Regions from separate parts of the Homo sapiens genome. Here all the other regions are reported to be linked to region 2. The links are microRNA targets in miRTarBase. Many come from high-throughput screens and were not tested one by one. Region 2 holds a microRNA gene; each other region holds the end of a gene's coding sequence.
The links. Region 2 holds the annotated microRNA hsa-miR-4799-5p (AUCUAAAUGCAGCAUGCCAGUC, at 995-1,016, opposite strand). A microRNA usually pairs through its seed, bases 2 to 8, with sites in the 3' UTR of a target mRNA and lowers its output. Matches are read on the target gene's strand: a 7mer-m8 pairs with bases 2 to 8, a 7mer-A1 pairs with bases 2 to 7 and ends in A, and an 8mer does both.

Region 1 (3,000 bases), not on the chromosome of region 2:
AAAATGTTTACTTCAAAGAAATTTTTATATAGGCTGAGGCTAATATATTCAAGAGTATAAACACTTTTCCTTTGGATTACCTAAAAACAAACTTTTAAAGTATCATATTTCAATTGACTAAAAATATAGCCAAATCTGTCACAACACAACATAAAGTAATGGACAATTATAGAATATTTTAAATTAACAGTAACAAGCCATCTACATCAAACCTTATTTCCAACTAAAACCAAACAAAAGCACAACAATCCCGTAGTGTACCAAGTGTGTATTTCAATTTACTGTATGCAATCTAACAAAAATTTGGTCATAATTTACCAGATATACATAAATGATTTAAGTAGTAAAAGAAAATTCAGCTTCAAGAGAGTAAGTTCATATCTTGAGGAAAAGTAAAAGTACATTAAGAATGTAAAGCCAAGTCCAGTTTCTATGCAATAAGTGAACTGTAGTCTAATAAAGCAGATTTAGGTGATTTTTAGATATATATCTTTGTTCTTTAATATATATTTATATATAGACAGATCTACCAATTGTAAACTAGTTTATTTAAAGGAAGGGGATAAATGGGATGAAAGAAATCTTTATACTATACTTACATATTCACAAAGAACATTTTACGTTTAAAATACTTTTTCATTCATAGTATCTTTGCCCAACTAATTTCTACCAGAAATACATTTTACTCATTTGTCTAGAACATTAAGAAGTACTCATCTGTTTTAAACAAAAATCAAACCGAAACTATTCTTATCTGTCAGGTTTACAGTTATGTAGAAACTACAATATAGATGACAAAAGATGCATCTAACCATGTAACTGTAATTTATCTTTGATTTATCCAAGCAGAAACATCATTGTCTAACAATAAACCATTATTCTACTGAAATCAGAGACAATGATAAAGCTTGTCTCTTAAAAAACATCAACTTTTCAACTTTGATCAGATGGAGCACCAAAGGGATTATATCTGTCAAAGCATCTTTGCAATTTTTTCCACATAACTAGCATAATTTAGTTACCTGATATAAAATAGGAAAATATACTCAATTTTTATTTAAAAGAAAGCTGAAAATATGACATCCCTCAATCTTATATAATATACAATATGCTAATAAATGCCATACATGTTAACAATACGTGAAATGCTGCTGAGAGTTCCACAATCAGCTAATTCATGTCACCAGGCTAAGTAAATCTGACAATTTCACCTCAATATGTCACCCTTTGTACCCTGAAGAATTTATAGAATAATAAAGCTTCTCAGAATTTTATTTGTAAGATTTTTGAGACTGTTGAATCATGGTGACTACTAGAAAGACTGTATCAAGGTGTAGTGACTTCAAGGACAGAAAAAAATAAATTAAGTATTGATCATAATTTCAAAACAATCAATATCCCGCTAAGTATGAAACAAAAGAGAATGCACATTTTGTGTTAATTTTCATGATAAAAGGGACACGGGTAAAAACCTGATATTTCACTTATATTGCATAACAAGCTAACCAAACTGGACATGGTGGATAAATTATAAAACAAATCATTTTACTTATTTCTATGATTTTTCTTTCAATTAGGTCTTTCAAATAGGACTGAGGTATAGTACACTGGCAAAAATAAAGAGGCAAACAAGAATAGTGCCAAAGTAACAGATACCCAAAACCAAATACCATGTCAGAAAATATCATATAGTAACCATTTATCAGATTAGAGCAGCAGAAGAAAGTTACTTCTAAATCATAATCATTTTAGTGGTATTTGTCAACTTCGCCACGGTAACTTCATAACATCATTCTTCATTTGTGAAGTAGTAAAATTCATGTCAAAAAGGAAGAGGGGAATGGAGGAAGTCAGTTAGTTCATTCCAATAAATTACCTCTCCAGTTCTTATAAACATGCCCATCAGCACAAAATCGAGAAATAATACCTAAGACTAGAAGAGACTTGGTTTAAGTTATGAAGCAAATTAAATGGAAAAATACAAGAAAATAGAACCAATGGGGTTGAAAAAGCCCCTCACTGAAAATCTGTATTAAAAAAAATAAAATTAATAAAAATAAAAATAGAAACAAAACTCTACTAGTACAAACTAGCCTGAGTGGTTTGATGGACAGAGTGATTGGGTCAATTGTCACTGTACTTCCATAAACGGATTTTCTCCATTCATGTTAAAGTAGCACATGAATGTAAGCTCTTTAAGGACTATTTTCATAGGACCCAAATAGTTACTGTATATCCTATAAATAAAAAATATTTTACTTTGATAACTGACTGAGTATGTGGGGACTCCATGTAATCCAACCACATGGTTGTTTGCTGTATAGTCCTGTGCAAATATAAAAAAAAATTTTTTTTGCTATAAGGCTTTGACCCTACAGTTTTCACAGCAACATAACTACTATCCAGCATGTACCATATTTTGCAAGCCTTCAAGTTCAACAATCCAAATTGTCGATTCATATTAGGTCCAAATGCAGCATCCTTGAGGAGTATAGTAGGTCAGTTAATCATCTAGAGACATACAAACTTCTCCTGATTCATCCCATCGAGAGGGATCATTCTGATCTTCTCCATCATCAACTAGCTCTTCATCAGCTTCTCCTACTTCATTCTCCTCGTATTCTTCATCCCGAGGGAATTCTGTATCCTGTCCCTGATCTACACCTTCTTGCCCTCCTGGCTGTGATTTATCTGCACAGTCTACACAAACACCATAACGTCGAGATCCATGTCTTATTCCAACACTGGCTGCTAACATGAAGATCTTCTTACACACCATACATTTGTATTTTTTATCCTTTTTATGCACCTAATTGGAGGGGGAAAAAATCCAATATAAGGATATTATATATAATAGAATGCATTTGAACCACTCAAATTAAACCACACATTTAATAGTGAGTGAATACACCAGTTTCTCTGTAAAAAGCTCACTATCAGTTCATAAAGTCAAACTGTTTAAAGCAATTTAGGAGACAATCTTCCTTAAATTCACAATTA
Region 2 (3,364 bases):
TATAAATTATACAATACACAATTTAATGTGTTCTATAAATTATACAATACACAATTTAATGTGTGTTCTATAAATTATACAATACATAATTTAATGTGTGTTCTATAAATTATACAATACATAATTTAATGTGTGCTATATAAATTATACAATACATAATTTAATGTGTGCTATATAAATTATACAATACATAATTTAATGTGTGCTATATAAATTATACAATACATAATTTAATGTGTGCTATATAAATTATACAATACATAATTTAATGTGTGCTATATAAATTATACAATACATAATTTAATGTGTGTTATATAAATTATACAATACATAATTTAATGTGTGTTATATAAATTATACAATACATAATTTAATGTGTGTTATATAAATTATACAATACATAATTTAATGTGTTATATAAATTATACAATATATAATTTAATGTGTTATATAAATTATACAATATATAATTTAATGTGTGTTATATAAATTATATAATATATAATTTAACATATAATTTACATAATATATAATTTAACACATAATTTATATAATATATATAATTTAACATATAGTATATAATTTATATATATAATTTAACATATAGTATATAATTTATATAATATATATAATTTATATAATATATAATTTAATATATTATATATAATTTATATAATATATAATTTTATATATTATATAATTTATATATTATATATAATACGTAATATATGTTATATATATTTTATGTTGTTTTTATATATATATGAAAATTTTTCCTGGGTCTTTGGAGTCTTTAGAGACTAGCTGAGCTGTGAATAACTCAGGAATGCTGTCAAACTAACCAGGAAGTCTTTACACACATAAATTTTCCAGAAGTCTCTTCTTTCCTGTTTGCAAACTGGTCTGACCCCTCAGAACAAGTTGTACCACAGTCAGTACTGGGCATCTCAGACTGCTAATATATAAATGCAGCATGCCAGTCCCTGCATCTCAGGACTGGCATGCTGCATTTAGATATTAGCAGTGACTGAACCGATTACCACACAGGGCTTTACAAAACACCTTCAGGTCATTTGACCCAGCGATGTACACAGTTCTCACAAAGCAGATTTCTCAGCTTTAGTTCTTGCTGATGTTAAGACGACTCTTTCTGCTGACAACTGTTTCCACAAAGTATTCTCTAACTAGTAAATGACTCATACCGGAAGAACCCACTCCTGAAAATGTATTAATTTCATGCTGATAATAAAACGCATATGCCATGTGGAAAATGCCACCAGCACTCCATGACACTACACAACTTCAAAGACATAGAGTCTTGCTCCTCATGAAAACTCAACGTAGTTCAACACGCCCAATACATGATCTTTCAACCATACTGTGCCAAACTGTCAATTTTCAGAGTCAAGTATTTGTATGCCTAAACCCCACACACCCACCACAATTAAATTCAGTATGATTCAGTCTCTCTGCAGGACATTCACCTTATGGCAATGTGGCAAATGCTGCACTAGCAATAAAACTGTTCTCTTCATTCAAGTTGTTACTTTGCTATATTACCCCTTTGCAAGGCAAGGTCACAAGAGACATACTAAGCGGTAAAACTATTCAGCGACTTTTTAAAAGCCACTTATTTTACCGTATTTCAGAAATCAATGAAACTCAACTGTCAGTTTTCCAATGTGGAAACTCAGATTTAAAATAGATACCTAGAGTTTAGCAATATGTATCAAGAATTATACAAATCTGACTAAGAATTTAACTATGGAAATACTGACGCGTAAAGATGTACTTTGCTATCACTTATAATAACAAATAGCTGGAAAGAAATCTAGATTAGTAATTGTATGCAATTAATAAAGAAAACTAAGCCGAGATTGCGCCACTGCACTCCAGCCTGGGCGACAGAGCAAGACTGTCTCAAAAAAAAAAAAAAAAGAAAAGAAAAGAAAAAAATGAAAGAAAACTGGTACATTTAGAAGGTGAAACACTTAGCCATTAACGATATTCTTAGTAAAACATTTAGTATGGCAACATAGTCATAATAAGGACTACTATACCCTTTTTTAAAAATGGAGAACAAAACAAAAATGTCATAGTATGAACATAGTTGAGGGTCTTGACAAGGCGGTATTTAAGATGTAAAAGTAGCTCCCCGTATTTTTAAATGTGTATATATGACTTGCATATTCCCCATATGTAGGGTGAGCCTACATCCTGGCTTGCCAGGTCCAGCCCAATGTAAATATGAAATCATGTCCCAGTTTGGTCAAAAATTAAACGGTTGCCACACCTACCTATCCCCCAATAGTTTCTGGCACAATCTTAGCTCACTGCAACCCCCACCTCCCGGGTTCAAGTGATTCTCCTGCCTCAGCCTCTTGAGTAGCTGGGACTACAGGCACAGCTAAATTTTGTATTTTTTAGTAGAGACGGGGTTTCACCATGTTAGCCAGAATGGTCTCGATCTCTTGACCTCGTGATCCGCCCGCCTCAGCCTCCCGAAATGCTGGTATTACAGGCGTGAATCACCTTGCCCGGCCCCGCCAGTAGTCCTAGGTTAGGTCACTAACAGTTACTCCCTAAATCTATAGGGTTAAGTTTCCCACCATCAAATGCAAATCTGAGCCCTTGCGTCTTCTCTCATTCTCTGGAGCGTCTTCTCTCATTCTCCCAAAAGTGGGAGGTGGAGGACAAATGGCTTAACCCACACAAAATTGATGATACCAGCCTAGTGAGGCATCTTCCCTTGGCCCAGTCCACCCTAGGTGGACTTGCTCTCAGAGGATGCCATGCCGGCAGCACTCCTTTAGGTACCTGCTCACCCTGCTGTGTCTCAAGTTCTGTTACTACTTGCCTTTTCTGTCACCCCATGGCTGCTGCCCTGCTTATACCACCCACAAGATGAGGCAGGCTTGTTATGACCTGGGTATTTCCTTCTCTCTGGATAGGCAAGTGACTTCCCCTTCTCAAGTCCCTCTCCATGCAAAGGAGAAGAGGGGAATCCCACAACAGGGCTGCCTGCTCCCTGCACTGATAATACAGTTCAGTCTTTTTTTCCTAGTCTCCTTCTTCCCAAGGCCCTAAAGTCTCAAAAAGACACGCAAATGAGACCAAGCTGAGCACAGCATTTCATCACCTCTATAAACACTGCCCTCTTTCCTTCAAGCCTGCTGACCGGGCTCCCTCCTCCACTATGGTACCATTTTGTTTCACCCTTAGCGGGGCTACTGTCACTCCCAGTAATGTGACCGCATGCAAAGTTGGGGTGTAGCTAGATACTGGGTAGGAGAGGAGAGGTAGGGCAGAATCTGTCACCTAACTCCACACACTGGCATGCTGAGCCTCGGCCCTGATCCAGACA
Region 3 (3,000 bases), not on the chromosome of region 2:
AGCTTTGTTCAAGAATGAGTTTTTTCTGAAATATAAACATTTGATTTAAAAAAACTGAAGTGAGAACATTTAAAATTGGTGTGTTTTACCATAACTTGGTAGGGAAGAGTAAGTTAATATTGGGATGCTTACATTATGCCTGAGATCTCTTTTTACTCTTACAGGAAACTGAGAAGAGGGGACCCTTTTACAGATTTGTGTTTTTTGAATTCTCCTATTTTCAAGCAGAAAAAGGATTTGAGACGTTCTAAAAAAAGTATGAAACAAATACAATGAAGGTTTTGTTGGATATTGTTTAAATTCAATCTACACCTCTTTCTGTTGCTTCAGGAGAGGATCTGTAAGAGTACACAAACAGAGTGAGCCATTGCCATAGAATATTCTCTTGACAGGACCCTAGCTCATAAACATTTCTTCAGAACTATACTTCAAATGGGATGCTTTGTATTAAAACTTTAATAAATTTAATTTATTTTTTCTTTTGAATATAAATAACTGAGCTTAAGCATTATCATCATATCGATTTCTTATGCTGCCTAAACCTCTTAATTTTAGTCGAAATATATCTTTTTTTTTTTTTGGAGGCGGAATTTCATTCTTGTTGCCCAGGCTGGAGTGCAATGGCACGATCTCAGCTTACCGCAACCTCCGCCTCCCAGGTTCAAGCGATTCTCCTGCCTCAGACTCCCGAGTAGCTGGGACTACAGGCATGTGCCACTACGCCCGGCTAATTTTGTATTTTTAGTAGAGACAGGGTTTCTCCATGTTGGTCAGGTTGCTCTCAAACTCCCAACCTCAGGTGATCTGCCCACCTCGGCCTCCCAAAGTGCTGGGATTACTGAGCCACTGTGCCCAGCCCAAAATGTATCTTATACAAACATTGTAGAAATGAATAATGATTACTCAAATAAGATCTTTTAATTATAAGCTTCTGGCATCTCTATTTTTCCCTTAAGTAGGGGATACTAAAGTGAATGATTTTCTAAGAGGATCTTTTGAAACTCTTTAGTACAATATTTGAGTAAAATAAATTATTGTGGATCTTTTGAAACTCTGTGTAGTATTCGAGTAAAATAAATATTTGACATTTACAGTAGGGTACACCCTAAGTTGTTTATGAATTCCTTATACCACTGTTATATTTAATTTTTCAGATAAAATATGTATGGGAAAATGACTAGAGAAATTGATTCTTTTTTAGGCTCAGGGACAAGATAAGTGACTAATTGTGAACCCCAAGCTCTAATTGTATGTTCAGAGTGATGTCTCCATAAAATTACAAATGTCATGTACTTTCAGGGTAGCTCCTTATTTAGTCAGAAATCTCAGAGATTAAATGTGTGAATATTTAGGGTTTTTGCATATTTTTGACCAACCAATGAAAGCGAATTAGTTCAGTTTAGAAAGTTTGATGTCTATACTTGTATATACCTCTTTAAATTTTAGAACTTTGTAGGTTATTCATTTTTAAAGAGCAATAAAGTTTGTATAAGATAGTGATTGCTTTCCTTCTATTCTTTAAATATCAAAAATAGAGTATCTCTCTGTCTTCACTATTCTCATCCTTGGACATTTCCTCTCCCCTCCCCTTGGTATTCTCTTTTTTGAGGGGGGGGTGTTCTAGGTGAGTTAATCCTTAGTATTTTCAGTAGTCATTGCTATAAAACTCTCAGCTTCCCCTCCATACTTTCAACCTAACACTTCTCTCTCCCAACTTATCTCTGTGTAATCTCCCAGTTCATGATTAACAAATTATAATTTTATTGAGGGACTGTTCTAATCCTGATATCTCAGATTTTCTTGGCTGTTATCTCCCTATCTTTCTGTATTCTATGTCAGTCAGAGCCAAAATCCTTTTCATCATCCCAAATTTTTCTATCCGCCACATCACTGATTCATACACCCTAGTCTTCCATCACAGTCTCTTAATTTTTAAGTTTTTTTTTTCTTACTACTCCCTTCATACTTATTCTTTAATTTCATGGAAACACTAGAGTAGCTATCTTAAACTAAGACTACAGACCATTAAAAAGTCAGTTTCTCAGCCAGGCACGAGAAACTACTAACACCTGTAATCCCAGCACTTTGGGAGGCCAAGGCGGGCAGATCACGAGAGGTCAAGGAGATCGAGACCATCCTGGCTAATACGGTGAAACCCCGTCTCTACTAAAAATAGAAAAAATTAGCCAGGCGCCTGTAGTCCCAGCTACTTGGGAGGCTGAGGCAGGAGAACGGCGTGAACCCGGGAGGCGGAGCTTGCAGTGAGCCGAGATGGTGCCACTGCACTCCAGCCTGGGTGACAGAGCGAGACTCCATCTCAAAAAAAAAAAAAAAACAGTTTCTCAGTCCATGTAACCACCTTTCAAATGATCAGTAGCCATATGTGGCTAGTGGTTACCATATTAGACAATTGAGGAAATATTGAACATTTCCATCATCACAGAAAGTACAGTTGGACTATGGGCCAAATCTAGCACACCACCTGCTTCTGGATGGTCTTCAACCTAAGAATAGTTTTTACGTTTTTAAATAGTTGAAAAAAAAAAAAAAAAGCAAACATTTGAAATCAATTTTAATGATAGAAGCACTAACTTTGAACTCCAGTAAAGTACCTACATTATATTCTTGAGTTTGCCTCTTGGCCTACAATCCTAAAATATTTACTTTCTGGTCTTTACCAAAAAAGTTTGCCAACTCCTGCTCTAGACCATTGAGTACTTTACTTTTGCCTTAAAGATCATTCTGGTCTGACACTCTGATCTAGCTTTGATCCTTACCTTCCCTTCATCCCCAAAGTCAATCATTATCCTAAAATCAGTGTTGAATTGTTTGTATTTTTAGTGTTCCTATAGTCTTGCTGTCATATTTGTTCATAGGCTTTTAAGTATTGTTTTATATCTTAACATTTTATAGGAATATTGTACACATCATTTTACAACTGACTTTTAACTCAATATTGTTTTTGAGATTTATCCGTGTTGGCAGATGTAGATTATTTTC

Region 1: the mRNA of ZBTB10 is a reported target of hsa-miR-4799-5p. Seed matches in the 3' UTR shown: 8mer at 1,731-1,738.
Region 3: miRTarBase lists SGO1 as a target of hsa-miR-4799-5p. Seed matches in the 3' UTR shown: 7mer-A1 at 1,399-1,405 and 7mer-A1 at 1,442-1,448.

What each region holds. Positions count from the first base shown.
Region 1 is chr8:80,519,032-80,522,031 of GRCh38, reverse strand. ZBTB10 (zinc finger and BTB domain containing 10) reads right to left here. Exons shown (of 6, transcript NM_001105539.3): 6 at 1-2,809. The coding sequence ends at 2,504. Among named protein-coding and RNA genes, the nearest start is that of LINC02986, 19 kb to the left of the region's middle.
Region 2 is chr4:147,780,256-147,783,619 of GRCh38, reverse strand. MIR4799 (microRNA 4799) reads right to left here and starts at 1,025; the gene lies at 952-1,025. All of the region lies in intron 1 of ARHGAP10 (Rho GTPase activating protein 10), which reads right to left. RefSeq lists enhancers at 2,672-2,721, 3,052-3,191.
Region 3 is chr3:20,167,980-20,170,979 of GRCh38, reverse strand. SGO1 (shugoshin 1) reads left to right here. Exons shown (of 8, transcript NM_001199251.3): 8 at 165-1,496. The coding sequence ends at 276. Among named protein-coding and RNA genes, the nearest start is that of SGO1-AS1, 4.8 kb to the left of the region's middle.